Regions from separate parts of the Homo sapiens genome. Here region 2 is linked to region 1. The links come from fine-mapping of genetic effects on gene expression. A gene starts in region 1. The other region holds a variant in brackets. All regions are shown on one strand. Distances are between the middles of the regions. Region 1 holds the start of PCDH19 (protocadherin 19). Region 2 overlaps SRPX2 (sushi repeat containing protein X-linked 2).

The links. PIP is the estimated chance that this variant, and not a neighbour inherited with it, causes the effect.
Region 2: its variant is fine-mapped to the expression of PCDH19 in visceral fat (GTEx, PIP above 0.99). The same link has a PIP of 0.9 or more in atrial appendage, breast, esophagus muscle, gastroesophageal junction, ileum and left ventricle.

What each region holds. Positions count from the first base shown.
Region 1 is chrX:100,408,318-100,413,689 of GRCh38, reverse strand. PCDH19 (protocadherin 19) reads left to right here and starts at 3,417. Exons shown (of 6, transcript NM_001184880.2): 1 at 3,417-5,372. The coding sequence starts at 5,093.
Region 2 is chrX:100,647,060-100,652,431 of GRCh38, reverse strand. It overlaps SRPX2 (sushi repeat containing protein X-linked 2), which reads right to left. Exons shown (of 11, transcript NM_014467.3): 3 at 1,567-1,647. Among named protein-coding and RNA genes, the nearest start is that of SRPX2, 5.5 kb to the right of the region's middle. RefSeq lists a silencer at 2,286-2,580 and an enhancer at 4,946-5,240. The variant T/C (reference allele first, on the strand shown) is at 2,557.

The sequences.
Region 1 (5,372 bases):
ACCCTTATCAATCTTAGGAGAACAAGAATTAGCTTCACATACTGGTTTGATCTAAAAGTAAGATTTCTCCCATTTTGGTCCTCTTTTATTGCCATTCAGCATGATTTTAGTGGCATGGATGACATTTTAAAGACAAAAAAAATTCTCTTTGCCAATTTTGATTCTGGCCTCAGTGGAGCTGCTTTGACCTGGAGAGCAGCCGTAGGCGGCATAGCACCATTAGTATTAGTATTTCTTAGTAGCTGTTGGATTAAAAAATACTGAGGATGGTCACTAGATGTCCCTCTTGTGTCTCTAAAGAGGCTGAGGAGGCGGGGCTCCCTTCAGGATTGAAGTAAAGGGAAGCTAAAACGGAGAGAACTTTCTTGTTTTTATTATCTACATGCAGAACGATTTTATTCAGTTAGTTAATAAATTCCTGATCATGAAAGTGTTTTGGGCTACTCATTTAGTCAATGGCATTCTTGGAGTATAATGATCGAGTGTGCCTATTAGAAAAAAAGAAATTCTGAGGGCAAAGGCTGTTGTTAGGATTATCTGTAGAAATAGACTGGGGGATGGAAGAGCTATTTTGTGTGTGGGGATGGGGAAGGCTGTGTAACTGTCACTTTGAGATTAGGGGTGGGGAGGAGATAATAGGAAAGAAGGAAAGCATAGGCACACGCCCCTGCCTCCCTTAGCACCTGGCTTGTGTAAAAGTGGTTTGGTAGCTGGAAGTACTTGGATGCTCTCCTTGGAAAAGAGGGGTGCCTGGAGTGTGAACAGCGAGCAGGAAGCAGGGAACACGGTGGCATCGCCTTAGCAAAGAGGGTTTGTCTTTGCAAATGCAGAACATGTCTTTACATTGTGATTGCAATTATGAAGGTAATGACATTGTACATGAATTGAATTCTCCTATTTATCTTTAAAAGACAGCAGAATATAGACATTCTATTAGCACTCCCTAAGGTAAGAGGTCTGCAGTCTTCTTATCTTGTTGTGTGCATCTTTTCAGATGCTACGACAATGTTAATCATTTTACCTGAGTAATTCTTCCATTTCTCGTTACCTGGGGGATTGTTAATGGCCGAGACTACTTCTCAGACTCTTTGCTCCCGCTCAATCAAGCCGTGGAGGCGCCAGTTTACTTTTATTGATCAGTGGGTTCCTGACAGCCTTCGCCACAAGGAAGCAGCATCATCCTTTTTTAACTTAAAGGGGGAACAGATCGCCTTAAAGTTTACAGCTAAAAGCTTCTAAGCATAGCATGCAAACATTTTAGCATGCTGCTAATTGTTCTGTTTAAATAGTCCAAGCAATATTTTAGAAAGCTGCCAAACGCCGAATTCACATCCCGTGATCAGATAGCAAACCCATTTCAAATGCCTTTTTAGGCCTTTTTAATTAGACCAAGATGCACTTCATTCCCATGCTCTGACATCAAAGGTAAATAACTGTGATAAATCAAATGGAACCCTTCCTTTCGCGGAGCCCGCGAGGTGCGCCCACCGCTGCCTGCCATGTTGTCATTCTCTACTACTTGCCCATTTCTCCAACGGTGTCTGGAGAAAACCGGTCGGGCCACCGGGCTCCCTTGAGCCACCACTCTGGTGTCCACCCGCAGCTCTAAATGACCAAAATTAAATGATACTCATTGCAGAAGCATCGGTTTTCTCCCTGTTGTTCTGGGCCGAATCACATCCTAACGTGAAACAGTGAAACGACCCCCACGCGGAAAGCGGATCAGGCTCCCTACGCTCTCCCTTTGGCCTCGGCTACATATTCAGGGGATCGCAATCTCACTCGCGAAATAATTTCTTTCTGTAAGAGGAAGCCGCCTTTCCCCTCTCCCACCGCCAAGGTAAAGGCTGCTAAAGTAGCTCTTCTTGGAAGGAAAAATATTTTAAAAAGCAGCTGGGTTGCTCTCCACAAGAAGATGGCAGTTTTGAGAAAACCCATTATGTGTCCAAATGCCGGTTTCCTTTTCTTGTTTAACGCTTTTTAGAGGGCAAAAATGACGCTCATGTGAAGCCCACAGGCTCGAGCCAATGTCGCTGGGCTAATTATGAGTCTGCTTATCCCACTCCCAAATATCCGAGACGACTCACTCAGAAGACATTTTTACTCTTCCAAGAATTGTGAATTCAGAAGCAGCTTCCCCACATTCTAAGAGAAAAAAAAACTTGTTTAACGGGCACGTTTTTGATTTTTTTGCCGCTGGCGACCTTAATTAAAAGCCTCAGAGCCCGGGTGGGGAGGAATGCCCCGCTGCCCCCAGGGAGCCTTCAGTGCAGAAGGCAGGATGAGCTTGATGTCAGCCCTGGCCACGCCGGCCTCCCGCTTCCCAGTACTGGCACATGCCGCAGCCACCACCGCCGCCCAAGTGGAGCTGGCAGCCCCCTGGGACCGAGACCCCGCGGGAAGGCTGGGGCGCCCTGCACATCGGCGCCGGCTCCCAGCTGTCGGCGACCTAAGCGGACATGTATGGCGTGCCCGCCCCAGAGCTCCTGCCCGGCTTTGAGCTCTGCTGGCTTGGCGCGGCGCGGCGGCGTCCGCTCCACCGGCTCTTCTCAAACGTACAGTTTATTTATAGGGAGCTAAATTCTCCAACAGGGTGGGGTGAGGGGCAATGAAATGTGTCCGGCCCCCTCCGTAGCTCATTCTCTGTGCCACATATCCCATTTGATTAACAAGCAACAGACAAGAGCGAACCGATCCAGGGGCCCTGCTGGGAGTGCGGCACGCAGAGAGTAGTGCGGCGTCTGCCCGGGGTGGAAGGATGGGGGTGACGGTCCGGGGGGGTGGCGGCCGTGGCTCTGGCCTGATGTGAAGACACACCGGCTAAGAGCTGGATGAATGACCACCTCAGGGGCGCTTTCTCCTTCCCTTTCTTCCTTCCACTACCAGAGAATGAGAAGAGAGGAAAACAAAAACAGACGATTTTTTAGGGTGAAGAGACAAGGAGAAATAGAGGGATATATATATGTGTGTATATATATATATATGTGTATATATATGTATATATTATATTCAAGATATGAAGATATGTAAGGGAGGTAAACACGATAAGACAATCATATCATCCTCATCTTTCCTGAAATCTCTGCAAACATGAGAAGCGCACAGTTCCCGGCGAGGCTCAGCCGCAGCGCCAGCACACCGCCTCCCTGCTCATTCCTGCCCTATTGCTCCTGCCTGGCCTGCCTGGCCTGTCTGTCCGTCCTCCCATGAATCCCGCCAGGGCTCCATGGGCCGGGGTACCACTTGGTCCCGCCGGTGTGAAGTTTCCGCTTGGCCCCGCCCCCCCGCTACCCCCCGCCTCCGCTTGGCCCCGCCCCAAGACTGGAGCCCGCTGGCGGCGCGCTGATTGGCCAGGGCCTGGCGTAGCCGGGCTCGGCAGCTTGAGCTTTCTCCGGCTTTCTCCAGACTCCGCGGCCAGTAGTTTGCGGCATCCGGAGGAGCAGCAGCAGCAGTAGCGGCGGCGGCTGGCGCAGCGCGGAGACGGACGAGCGGGCACAGACGGCAGCACAGCTCCCGTGCACCATGCCTGGCTTGCCCGGGAGGCACTGGCACCCGCGTCCCTAGCCCGGCGCTGGCCCTTGGCGCGTTGCGCTCCGCAGCATTCCGGCTGAGCGATTTCATCCGAAATCCTAAACCTCCTACCCCAAACCCATTGCCTCCTGCTTGCTCATACTCCACACTCACACTCCCCACACCACACACTCACTCTTCCTCTCTCTCTCACACATTCACACACAGCCCGAGACAGACAGAGAAAGCGAGACAGACCTCCCGAGTGCGCGAGCGCCCGGGAGGAAGGGAGCCCAACGCAGCGCGGCCAGCGCCTCTCCGGGAAGATGAAATCAAGACGCTCCTGCAAGTAAACTTCGGCGGCGACAAAATCGTCGACTGTGGCAGCTGCTGAGGCGGACCCCAGCGACGTGCAACTGAGCTAGGAGGGCTTCCTCCCGCGGCGGCGGCGGCGGCGGCGGCGGCGGCGGACCTTGGAGCGACACCCCAGCCCAAACGGAGAGAAGAGAAGCACCCGGTACCCACGGCGGCGGCCCCGCCTCTCCTGGCCGGTACTGTTGTTGCCTCCCCTTCCCTCTTCCCCATTCCCCGCCACCCCCGGCCATTAGAAAGACCGGGGCTTTGATTTTCTTGGACAAATTGCCATCTCCCCGTTTCCACAAACTTGACGTGGAGGGTCGGACTGCGTTGTTAACTTTGATTTCCTAGACGAAAACGCCCGCAGACCCTCAACTGCTCTGTGGGGGGAACTCCGCTCCCACCTCGGATCCTGGACAGACGCGCCCCCAAGCCCTTCGAAGCCAGCCTTAGCGCGAGGGAGCGCGCTCAAGCTCTGGCAGCCTCTCTCCCCTCCCCCTTCCTCTGCTGGCCCCGGGACCGCCATCCGACTCAACCCTATAACCGGGTGCCCGCGGCGCTTGCCAGTAACTGACTCCCGTCTGCGACACCCCCTTTCTCCCGAACAGGCCTCGAAGAGGCCAGTGTGGCCCCCCCAGACCCCGGAGGGCGCATTCCAAGCGGGTACTCTCTCCGCAGTGAACTGGGAGCGCTGGGGGGAGGTCTTTGCGCATGCCAGGTGCACAGACAGCGAGTTCGCCAGCCTCAGTGCCGGTGCACCGCGGCGGGCCGGGCAGTGCCTGAAAGGCTGCGCCTCCTCCGCCCTCTTTACCTTCGCCTCAAGTACTGTCCGGACTCAGCGGTGCGTCCTCCAGGCCGCGCAGACGCCGCCCGACCCGCAGCCCTGGGCGGCTGCCGACAGTCGCGCCCGGCTAACTTTGAAGGGGTAAAACTGAGTAGCCGGGCTGGAGGGAGGGGGCTCGGGGCCGCGCGGCGCTCCCTTGGCCCCTCGGAGCCCCCGGGGCCCCCGCGAGCCCCCGCCGCGTCCGCCGCAACCTCAGCATTGGAGCCGCCGCGGGTGTCCCCCGCGCGCCGCCGGGCCGCCCTGGGCGGGACTTCTCCCGCGGCCTCCGGGGCCACGGGGCGCGCGCAACAGGCGGCCCGAGCCGGCGGGAAGCTGGAGCGCCGACGGCGTCGGTCTCGGAGGGGTGTGGAGAGGCGAGGCCAGGCAGAGCCCCGTGCAGCCATGGAGTCGCTCCTGCTGCCGGTGCTGCTGCTGCTGGCCATACTGTGGACGCAGGCTGCCGCCCTCATTAATCTCAAGTACTCGGTAGAAGAGGAGCAGCGCGCCGGGACGGTGATTGCCAACGTGGCCAAAGACGCGCGAGAGGCGGGCTTCGCGCTGGACCCCCGGCAGGCTTCAGCCTTTCGCGTGGTGTCCAACTCGGCTCCACACCTAGTGGACATCAATCCCAGCTCTGGCCTGCTGGTCACCAAGCAGAAGATTGACCGTGATCTGCTGTGCC
Region 2 (5,372 bases), 240 kb before region 1:
ACACAACTTCATCCTTCCGCCGCCTGTAGGGCATCTTTACCAAACCAGTTTTCTTTTTTGACATTGTCTTTCTGAGAGGGGTCTTATTTCTTCCAGGTGTACAGACTGAGTGCTTTCAGACATCAGTTTGTTTCTTAGCCTCTTGGTACATCAAGTCTGTACTAAGTCTTGTCATCTCTTTCTTTGAAACATTTATGGGGTTCATCTGTACCCTCCATTTCTTTGCCACCACCATCAGTCATCTCTAGCCAACATTACTGTAGCTGGTTCCTGGAGAGTCTCCCTGACTCAGACTTAACCACTGAACCCCTATTTCTGCATAGAATAATCAGGTTAATGTTCTAAAATGACAATTTACTGTGTCATGCCTCTGTGCAAAAACATGTGATGGGCTCCCTATAGATCCTAGTACAACAGCTAAACTCTTCCACATGGCTTGCAAAGCAAAGAAACAAAGAATCAGAAATAGAAGGGATATTAGATACCACCTGGCCTAACTTCCCTTTTAATGCAGGAATTACTCACTATGCAGCATTCATCACAGATAATTTTCATGCTTCTCATTAGTATTGTCCCTAGATCATGGAGTCTTTCCTAATTTGGTCTCACTCTTTATATTTAACTTTTTTTTTTTTTTTTTTTTGAGACAGAGCCTTGCTTTGTCACCCAGGCTGGAGAGCAGTGGTGCCATCTCAGCTCTCGGCTCACTGCAACCTCCACCTCCCAGGTTCAAGTGATTCTCCTGCTTCAGCCACCTGAGTAGCTGGGATTATAGGCACATGCCACCATGCCTGGCTAATTTTTTGTAGTTTTGTTGGAGATGAGGTTTCACCATATTCGCCAGGCTGGTCTCGAACTCCTGACCTCAAGTGATCCACCTATCTCGGCCTCCCAAAATGCTGGGTTTACAAGCATGAGCCACTGCACTTGGCCTATATTTAACCTTCTTTGATACTACTCCCTCCATATTCCATTTCCTCCAATCAGGCTGGTTTCTTCTTAGCTCCCTCCTCTACCAGGTTTGTTCTTACTTCCGTATTTTTAGCCATCTGCTTTGCTGAATGCTCTCCCCTCCCCTTTCTGGTTCTCAAAATCCCACCTATCATTCTAAGCTTAGCCTAAATGTCATCTTTCATGACCCTTTTCCTGACTTCTTTTTCTTAAACCCTATTGCATTTACTGCTATGACATAGCTTCACACTTACTTGCCCTACATGTGCTAACTTTATACCCCCCCATCACCCCCAACAGAATATAAGCTACATGATGGGGACAAAACCCTATCTGAGACCTTGTATTACCCACAGGCTTACCTTGCACAGGATTAGGCATTGAGTAACTAGTCAATACTTAATGATTAATAATACATGGAGAACCTTCAGGCTGGAGAGGTGAGGTCACACAGTAAGTCAGTAACCAAGTTCATGATGAGAAATCACAGCCCCTGATTCCCTGTGCTACAGTTTTGACACATGTGAGCCAAGCCTGATGGGGATGCTTCAGGGAAGGGCCTAGGTCTGAGGCCAGAAAAGAGATTTTCTGGGCTTGAGAAGCAGGGTAGATTACCTCGGTAGTCCAGGGCAGGAGCCTGTGGGACCTCCTCTGCATATACTTCATTGTAGCTTTCATCCGGATAGTAGCCAGAACCTAGAATAAGGAAGACAATATCAAAATGGTGTCTTGATTTCTCACTCAATTCCTTCCCAACCTTCCCCCTCTCATCCAACTTTGTCACTTCCTTAGGACATGGCATTCCATGGGTGGGGAGCCAGGTGGATATTTAGTGGGGGAAATCCTGCATTGTAAGGCAGCAGAACTACTGTGGGTGAATCTCAGCACCTCAGTTGCATAGAGGGCAGGCTCATAGTTGTGGTGGCCAGTTACTGCGAGCACTGGAAGACTCCATCTAAAAGAAAAAAATTGAACCTGACCATACATCAATCCTGTCAATCTGGACTATAAATGACCCATTTCCTTGAAGCAACACATGAGTCTTGGTAAGACACTGGGGACTAATCTCTGAGAATGGACTGTGGTCCCTGATAGGAGGCAAAAACAGAACCTGTGTCTTCCCCCTAGTGACAGCCCTGCTTATGGTCCTCAAAAAAAAACAATTACTCAGGCTTCCACTAGCCCACAGGGCACAGGCCTTTTTGTCATCGGATTACCGGATTACCATTGCTGGGGGTGGCATGCCAAGGCCGAGAGGGATGACTTAAAAGGCAAGAGGAAATGAAAGCAGTTTTGTGAGCACTTTGCCCTGGTTTGGAGAACAGAGAAGGCAGAGTCCTTCGGATAAATTTCCTGTTTCTCTAATCAGAAGGAACTTTAACAGGGAGCTGCTGAGCTAGAGAACATTCCTAATCTATCTCCATCCAGTTAAGTGGCCCAGTCCCTAGTGGAGGCAGGTCTGCGGCTGTCTGGGAGACTAAACAGTATGTTCCACCAGACGGCAGGAAATCGGTCATGAATACGAACTAATTGGAAAACAACTTGGTCCTTTCCGGAGTGAAGTTTCCGGAAGCCCTCCTTCCAGCCTCCCTGAGCCCTAATGCA[T/C]GCACAGGAATAGGGTAGCCAGCTGTTTTGGAGTCAAGAGACAATTCCCTATTTCCAGGAGAGGGTGTGCTTCCAGGACAGGGCTGGGTTTTAGTGCTGGAGCCCTTTGGCCTGTGTAAATACTCAGGCCACAAGCTCGCCTCCTCCTCTTGGGAAGAGGCACAGGGCCCCCTGCACTGAAGGGCGGAGCAGAGGGCCAGATGATGAAGCTCCTCCATTCCCCACAGGCCCAGACTAGGGGTGGGGGAGGTGAGGTATTGGGAAACCAGTCCAACTTGGTGAACAAGGGAATGAATCAATTGAAAGTTTGCCTTATGAAATCATGTCCTCGTTGGTTTGCCCTCATTCCAGAGGAAAGAGTTCATTTTTTCTTTTTCCCCTTTTTCTTTTTTTCTGTTTTCCCATTTCAGTTCTTCTTCTGGCTTCCGTTGATTTCTTCTCAGACCTCATCTCCCCTGCTCTCTTTTTTCCCATAATGGGAGGTTTCTTTGGTGGGTGCGGGGGAGTCGGGGGGCGGGTCATGGAATTTTTGTCAGCTGTTTCAGTTCAGTATTAGCCTCAAAGCTTTATAGGTCCTGTAAACAGGAGGCCAGATGTGGGTGATTCCCTAAAGTATTAGGTCTTCCTGCTCCGGTTACAGAGCCAGCTTTTGAAGACATGCTCAGCAGGGAGCAAAGGACTGTTTAACAGAAGAGAAAACAGGAGTGTCAGGAGTGTCAGAGCCCTGTGGCTTGGTAACAGTAACAACAACAAGAACAACTACGACAATGACTGCTAACATCTCTCAGCTCATATTCTGTGTTAAGCACATTACATATGTTAGTTCATTATGTCACCATAACATGTCAGCAGGGTAGGTACTACTAATGTGCTCCAATATAAAGCCGAAGAAACAGGCTTGAGGAACCAAGAGAACCAAGGTCTCCCAGCTAGTAAGCAGCAGAGTGGGCATTCCAGCCCAGGTCTGCTTGACCCCCTAGATACCAAACTCAGACACTCCACTGAAGATGGTGATTAGGGAAGAGCTTTTGATAATGTCCAACTGGGGTAAAAGTCCAAAATCTCTTTTGCAATCCAGCTTTTTTACTGTGTGTGTGGGATCGAAGGCCACCAAGCATTTTACATCATTCCAGAATTACAAGGGATGTAGGAAAACTGTGGGGAAGACTCAATAAGATAATTACAGTCTCCATCAGGGTGCGGAAGTAGCTGGACCAGTGCCAACTATGCTTTGTGTGGAGAAAGGGTTCAGACCATCTTGCCACTTTAAACCTTTCCATTTTCCCATTTCCCCTCTTTGCCTATCTTTGAGTTTTTTTTCTTTTTTGCAAATGGTGGAATACTAAGATGGGTATAAGAATGAAATTAAAGGGGAACATTTCCTACATTATTCTGTCTGCTTGTCCCTCTTCAGCCCTGGGGGAAGGACTTGGGGAGCATTCCTCAGTTCCTTTAGATCAATCAGTGCTTGGTTACTGTGTGGTCTGTTACTGGGTTCCTCCAACCTCCATAGTACAGTCAGGCCCTCTAAGCACTGCCCTTCACAAAAGTATAGTTAGACATGTAATTGATAGTTAAAAGACTATCTTAAGATTCATATTAATCCTTGGCTTATGATGACAAATACAGTCTGACTTTCTGGGCTGCACAGATATGCCAGAACACACTTTTAACCCATTCTTTGCTTTATTTATATTCTTAACTTTTCCCAGCCACTGCTGATTATTCCTGGACCCTTTTTCTGATTAGCCCTGGATCCACATTTGGCTGCTATTCTGTGCCATGCCCATTTGAAGACAAGGCTGTACAAGTAAACAAAACTGTCCTGGATGCATAAAGAGTCCTCAATAAATATTTGTTGAAGGAATGAATGAACAAAGGCATGAAGGCAAGCCCAACAGCTGAGCTAGCAGTGTAGGGGAAATGTCTCTCATCATGTGGCCTCCTAAGGATAGAAGAGGGAAGAATGAGTGGAATTGCAGGGCTGGCAGAGGCCTCACCAATCTGAGCTTCTCAGGAGTGGTGACTTGTGATTCACGTGGAAGTGGGGTGTTCCACCTTTGCAAATAGCCCTTTGAGAACCTCAACTGAATCTAACTTTTAAAAAACTGCTCTGTGCTCACGCCTCCAACAGCTCAGGCTTCTGTTTTGGGAAAGGTAAAGACCTTTGCATGCCATGAGGTTTCATACAGGTGTTCAGAATTGGGCTTCGAGCCATCTAATCTCCACTCCTTTAGTCCTGTGGTCTTTGGCTGGATTTTGGTCTCTGTAAATGAACTGAAGCAAGGGGAGGTTGGGGAGGACAGTTGCATATTTATCTCCTGGAGACTTGAGGCACCTTTAACCCCAAACAGGATATGCTCTGCCAAGGGCTTGACTTGAATTTTTTCATCTCAATGTCAGTCCTTGTGCTTCACCCCCTACAAAGCCAGGTTAAGCCAAAAAGGGGAAGAAGTTTGCATATTTGTTTGAAAGCTTGATGCAGCTGTTCCAGACAAACAGAGCTACTGCCAAAGGCCTCCACCAGGAGCTAAGGGCATGTGGAAAATTTTAGCTGCAGGGACTGTGGCTGTGATGGGAGCAGTTTGTTATTTACTCATCTCTGGATATTTTCCTAACCCCATTGGTTGGGTCTGTCTCCTTCCCCCACTACTCCCCACGGGCCCCTGTGAGGGCAGACACTGCAGGCCACAGAATATTCTTAGCACTTGGAATGCCAGCTGGGCCCCATATAAAACCTCTGTATGCCACTTCATTATCCTGCCCTCATCCCTTCCCCCTCCCCTTTCCCTCTTCTCACTGAGTTTGTTCTCTGG